Linked DNA regions of Homo sapiens: region 2 is linked to region 1. Evidence: fine-mapped expression QTL. A gene starts in region 1. The other region holds a variant in brackets. All regions are shown on one strand. Distances are from middle to middle.

The links. PIP is the estimated chance that this variant, and not a neighbour inherited with it, causes the effect.
Region 2: its variant is fine-mapped to the expression of CMPK1 in blood mononuclear cells (TOPMed, PIP above 0.99).

Annotation. Positions count from the first base shown.
Region 1 is chr1:47,332,148-47,335,057 of GRCh38, forward strand. CMPK1 (cytidine/uridine monophosphate kinase 1) reads left to right here and starts at 1,643. Exons shown (of 6, transcript NM_016308.3): 1 at 1,643-1,969. The coding sequence starts at 1,799. RefSeq lists a silencer at 1,556-2,195 and enhancers at 1,582-2,385, 2,386-2,910, 2,706-2,765.
Region 2 is chr1:47,384,136-47,387,045 of GRCh38, forward strand. It overlaps LINC01389 (long intergenic non-protein coding RNA 1389), which reads right to left. Exons shown (of 5, transcript NR_126355.1): 4 at 2,113-2,221. Among named protein-coding and RNA genes, the nearest start is that of FOXE3, 31 kb to the right of the region's middle. The variant G/A (reference allele first, on the strand shown) is at 1,637.

The sequences.
Region 1 (2,910 bases):
ATGGGGGTGGTCAGACAGAGGGCTATACCACTATCTTCCTCTCCTGTTTGCTTTCGTTTACTAACGTCCTGGTCACTCTGCCCTAAACAGCTTAGTTCCTTTCCCATAGTCTTTGTTCACTCCAGCACTATCTGACTTGAACTTGTACCTGTACGACAAATCTAACACCCTGGACTCTTAGTTCTAAAAACAGGACATGCATTCTGCCTCAGTCTTCCATTCCCATGGTCTCACCCTGGACCTTGGCATCATCAGAAACTCAGAAGCTGGGACATTTCAATTCCAAATATCCCACTCAGACCAGCAGCATCCATACTGCCAGAGCACTTGCTCATATACCCCACTGCAATCTTTCTTGGGCCAATGCTCTAAGACATTGGTCCCTTTCCCCACCACCCTCCAACCCCTCCACTACCAGGCTTCATGTGCCATTATTTGCTTTCCTGTATGGTTTTGATTCTACACACAGCATCATGAACATTCTCTTCCAAACACTCTCATCACTTGGCCCCCTCTCTCTGTTGTACTTGCCAGGCAAAATCCCAACCCTCAGTAAATGCAACAAGCTGCCTTCTCTGCCTGTGCCTGAATGGCCAAACATCTTCAATTATTTTGAATCCGTTACCTCAAATATCAAATGAGCTCTTAACGTTGGCCAGAAGGCCTTTTAAAGGCCTGTATGCACCAAGGCTCAGTTCTTGAACGTCTCCTTTTCTTCTCCCTTAAGATTCTTCCCTAATGAAGGGGGCAGGCGAACGGAGTTAAAGGGCTTCCATTGCTGTTAGAATACAGCCCAAATTCCTTTCCATAATCAAAAGTCCTGATCTGCCACCGACCTCACTTTCTCAACTTTTCACCTTCCATTCTCCCCTCATTTGACTCAGCCCTGGTCTCACTGTCACTGGCCTTTTTTCCTTTTTTTTTTTTGAAGCAGTCTCATTGTCACCTAGGCAGGAGTGCAGTGGTGCTATTACGGCTCCTAGGCTCAAGTGAACATCCCAGTAGCTGGGATCACAGGCACGGGTCACGGTGCCCGGCTTTTAAATTTTTGGTCGAGACGGGGTCTCGTCATGTTGTCCAGGCTGGTCTCGAACTCCTGGGCTCAAGCCATCCTCCTGCCTCAGCCTCCCAAAATGCTGGGATTACAGGCGTGAGCCACCGCGCCCAGCCAGGCCTTCCTTCAATTGCTTTAACATGCCAAACCAACTTAGATTTTTTGCACATGCTTTTCTCTGTGGGACACTCTATCCTGGTGTTTGCCTGGTTTCGCTCTTTTCTATCCTTTTGTCTTGGCTTGAATGTCACCTCTTCTGAAGCCTTCTCTGGCGACCCTGGCCATCTTATGTCCTACTTGTTATTTCTTCAAAATCGTACTGCCTTTTGTATGTACTGGTGTTTACTCATTCACACTGGCTACCTCCCCATACCTCACTGGCTGGAATGGAAACTCATTGCGAGCAGAGACAATAGGTTTTGCTCTCCCGCGGATCACGTCCCAGCCTCCAGCTCAGCACCAGACACTTGAGGGCGCAGGATAAAATATCTGCAGTCAGAAAGCACTAATAACCACCCAAGGGTTGGAGGAAAGCTGGCGCGGACCGCACGAGTGTCGCCGAGACGCCGCCGCCGTGCGAAGCTCCTCCCCTTCCGACAGGGCCGCGGACGCCCGGGCAGCCACGGCGGCGGGGCCGCGGCGGGCGCCGGCTCAGCCCGCCCCTTTCTCCCGCCGCCTCCCCGCCCCGCCCCGCGCCGCGCCGGCCGCTGTCAGCTCCCTCAGCGTCCGGCCGAGGCGCGGTGTATGCTGAGCCGCTGCCGCAGCGGGCTGCTCCACGTCCTGGGCCTTAGCTTCCTGCTGCAGACCCGCCGGCCGATTCTCCTCTGCTCTCCACGTCTCATGAAGCCGCTGGTCGTGTTCGTCCTCGGCGGCCCCGGCGCCGGCAAGGGGACCCAGTGCGCCCGCATCGTCGAGGTGAGGCCCGGGCAGCAGGCGGGCTCCTTGGGGCTTGACGGGATGCGGGCCGGCCTGTCCCGCCGCCCCTAGTCCGCGCCCCGCGGAGTCGCCGAGCCGCAGACTACGAGTCCCGGCGGCCACCGCGCCGCCCGCGTGGCAGTGGCCGAGGGCCGCCGGCGCGCGGCGTGCCGGGACTTGTAGTCCGCGCCCGCCCGCCTTGGGGGCCACCGCTTGAGGTCGCTTTGTTCCTGCGCCCCTTCTTTTCTTACATTTTGGGGACCAGATTCGTCTCTAGAGTGGGCTGGGAGAGGGATCCCGGAGGCCAACCTTTGGGGGTCCCCCAGCGCGCAGAGGTTAGCGTGTCGCTGATCGTGTGGCAGGTGAAGGCAGCAGGAGCGCGGATTTGGGTTAGAGGCCGTGTGCGCCCACAGTTGTCTGAAGGAGAGACCTATTTTTCTTCTCCGCGCCTTCCCTCTGGTTCCCTAAACTCCGCACTGTCACCGAACGTGTCTTTACTCTAGAAAGGAGGCCCGTGGGGCGGGGTGTTATTTTAGGCGTGCTGTGGGCTGCCGCTGGCACTCTCGAGCCCCGTCCCCGCAAGCTTTAGGGCGGAGCCAGCCCTGAGGCTCGGCCCGGGTCGGGGATGGGGAAAGCCGGGAGTGCTGTTCTGAGATCAAGCTTCAACCTTTGGCCCTGCTGCCAACTCACGCTCGGCCCTCGGTCACTTCCTGTCTCCCAGCCTCAGTTAGCCCTTGTAATACAGTAAAAAGAGTCTCTGAACCCAGATTTTCTCAGGATATAAAACACCTCCCAAATGTAAAATGCTGTTACTTTTTTTTCTTTTGCTTTGAGACAGGTTACCAGTTCAATTCTTTTAACAATTTTTGAGCTAGATGTATGGTTGGTTAGCTGCATTGACACTGTGGGAAAAAAAGGCTTCATGGACAATCTGGGGAATG
Region 2 (2,910 bases), 52 kb after region 1:
TTTATTTTCTCAGTGCATATATCACCATGTGAAGTTACTTTTACTTATTGTTGATTTCCCCTCTAGATTTTAAGTGCCAGAAGAGCACTTACCTTGTTTATTCCTGTTTTCCAATACCTAGACCAGTGCCTGCACATAGTAGGCACTCAATATTTGTTGAAAAAATAAACTGAAATGGAAAAATATTTTTGGCAGTAGCTGTAGCTACAAGTTATATCACTGAATTTTGGATCCCAGTAGAGTCTGCTTGTGACCTCTTAGGATTCTATTTTCGTTCCCCCTGAAGATTGGGAGCTGATAATCGTAAAGTACTGGGACCCCATCAGCTTCCCTCTGTTTTCAGTACACAACTCATGAAAAGACTTACAATGTGACTATCTTGGAGAAAAAAAAAGAAAGGGATAAGAAAACAATGTTTGGGCGAAAAATCTCACCCACTCATCCATAGTTCAATCTATGTTGATAGATTTGTTTTACCTATTGTACCTCTGTTTCACTATATGTTAGGACATGGGAAATCTCTGCTTTCTGAAGGCTTTTGACAGTTTTTGTTCACGCCACAGATTTGAAACGACTTAATATAAATTTCTACTTGAAGCCTTATAAGATTATAGTACATCCTAAGCACTTTAGTATCTATTTATTAAATTCAAAAAGAATAAAGTTAGATGCTTTTAGCCTGCCTTCTCCTCTATAGCTGTGTGTTGTGGTTCTTAATCAATGGAGTCTTTGAATGGGAAAGAGATTTCAGAGGTCTTAGTTGGATTTCTCTATTGTCTTAATAGCCTGACACAGAGTAGATAAATAAATGTTTGTATATTGAAAGAAGGAAAGTGTCCTCTTCAAAGCCCTCCAGACAGTTAGGAGCAGAACTAGGCCTAGAACCCAGTTCTCCTTTCTCCCAGCTCTTACTCCTCAACACCAACATGTTTTTTTTTTTTTTTTTTTTTTTTAAAAAGGACAGGGTCTGGCTCTGTTGCCCAACTGCAACCTCTGCCCTTGATCAGGCTCAAACGACCCTCCCACCTCAGCTTTCCGAGTAGCTGGGACCACATGCATGTACCACCACGCCCACCTAATTTTTAAAAAAACTTTATAGAGACATGTTGCCCAGACTGGTCTCGAACTCCTGACCTCAAGTGATCTGCCTGCCTTGGCCTCCCAAAATGTTGGGATTACAGGTGTGAGCCACTGAGCCACCGTGCCCGGCCACTAACATGCATTTACCTCAGTCATTCCTAACAAACACTTGGAAAAGCAAAGTAGTATCCTGTGATACTCCAGAACCACTATGTTACTATGTAGCAGGATTTCATTCAGTATGCTGAGCATTTGTTGAATGTCTTTTTAACCATATTTAAAACAAGAACCAATGCCTCAGGCCCTGCCCCCAGAAATTCTAATTTAATTACTTTTATTTTATTTTATTTTATTTTTGAGACAGAGTCTCACTCTGTCATTCGGGCTGGAGTACAGTGGTGCAGTCTTGGTTCACTGCAACCTCTGCCTCCCAGGTTTAAGTGATTCTGCCTCAGCCTCCCAAGTAGCTGGGACTACAGGCACATGCCACCACACCTGGATAATTTTTGTATTTTTAGTAGAGGTGGGGTTTCACCATGTTGGCCAGGCTGGTCTC[G/A]AACTCCTGACTTCAAGTGATCCCCCTGCCTTTGCCTCCCAAAGTGCTGGGATTGAAGGCATGAACCACCGCGCCTGGCCTCTTATTTATTTATTTATTTATTTAGAGCCAGAGTCTCGCTCTGTTGCCAGGCTGGAGTGCAGTGGCGCGATCTTGGCTCACTGCAACCTCTGCCTCCCGGGTTCGAGCGATTCTCCTGCCTCAGCCTCCCGAGTAGCTGCGACTACAGGCATGTGGCCCCACGCCCAGCTAATTTTTGTATTTTTAGTAGAGACGGGCTTCACCATGTTGGCCAGGATGGTCTCGATCTCTTGACCTCATGATCCGCCTGCCTCGGCCTCCCAAAGTGCTGGGATTATAGGCGTGAGCCACGCTCCCAGCCCTGCATTTCTTTTATGTGTAAAGTGATACTGATATTGATACTTTGAGAACCACCACAGTAAACAAAGTGATCAGAGCAGATAATGAAAACTCACAGCCTTGTATCTTTGTGGGCAAGGGATCAAGTCTTGGTCTTTTTGATGCATTCGCTCATAAGTTCAACTTGGTCTTTTTGATGCATTCACTCATAAGTTCATCGCAGCACTATACACAATAGCAAAGACATGGAATCAAGTCAGGTGCCCTTCAGCGGTGGACTGGATAAAGAAAATGTGGTACATATACACCCTGGAATACTATGCAGCCATAAAGAAAACCCAAAAGTATGCCCTTTGCAGCAACATGGATAAAGCTGGAGGCCATTATCCTAAGCGAATTAATACAGGAACAAAAGTAAATATATGTTCTCACTTAAAAGTGGGAGCTAAGCATTGGGTACGCATGGACACAAAGATGGGAACAATAGACACTGGGGGCTGCAAAAGAGTGAGAGGCAAGGAAAAACTACCTATTGGGAATTATGCTCACTACCTGGGTGACAAGATCAATTGTACCCCATACCTCAGCATCATGCAATATAACCATTAAGAGACCTGCACATGTATTCCCTGAATTTAAAATAAAAGTTGAAAAAAAAAAAGTCTTGGTCTTTTTATCCACAGTGTCTAGCACAGAGTAGGTACTTAGTGTTGATGAATTGACAGTTGGTGACAAACCATAGTGAAAGCTCACAAATTAAACAGCTGCTTAGTCTGCTGCCATTCCTGAGCTCACAGAGTGAGAGGGAAGTACTGCATGCAACAGTATCACAAATGCTCTCCCACTAAGGGAGTTGTCACATGGATGGCAGCTTGGCATAGTGGGCTTTCTATAATCTTACTTAGCAGCTGCCA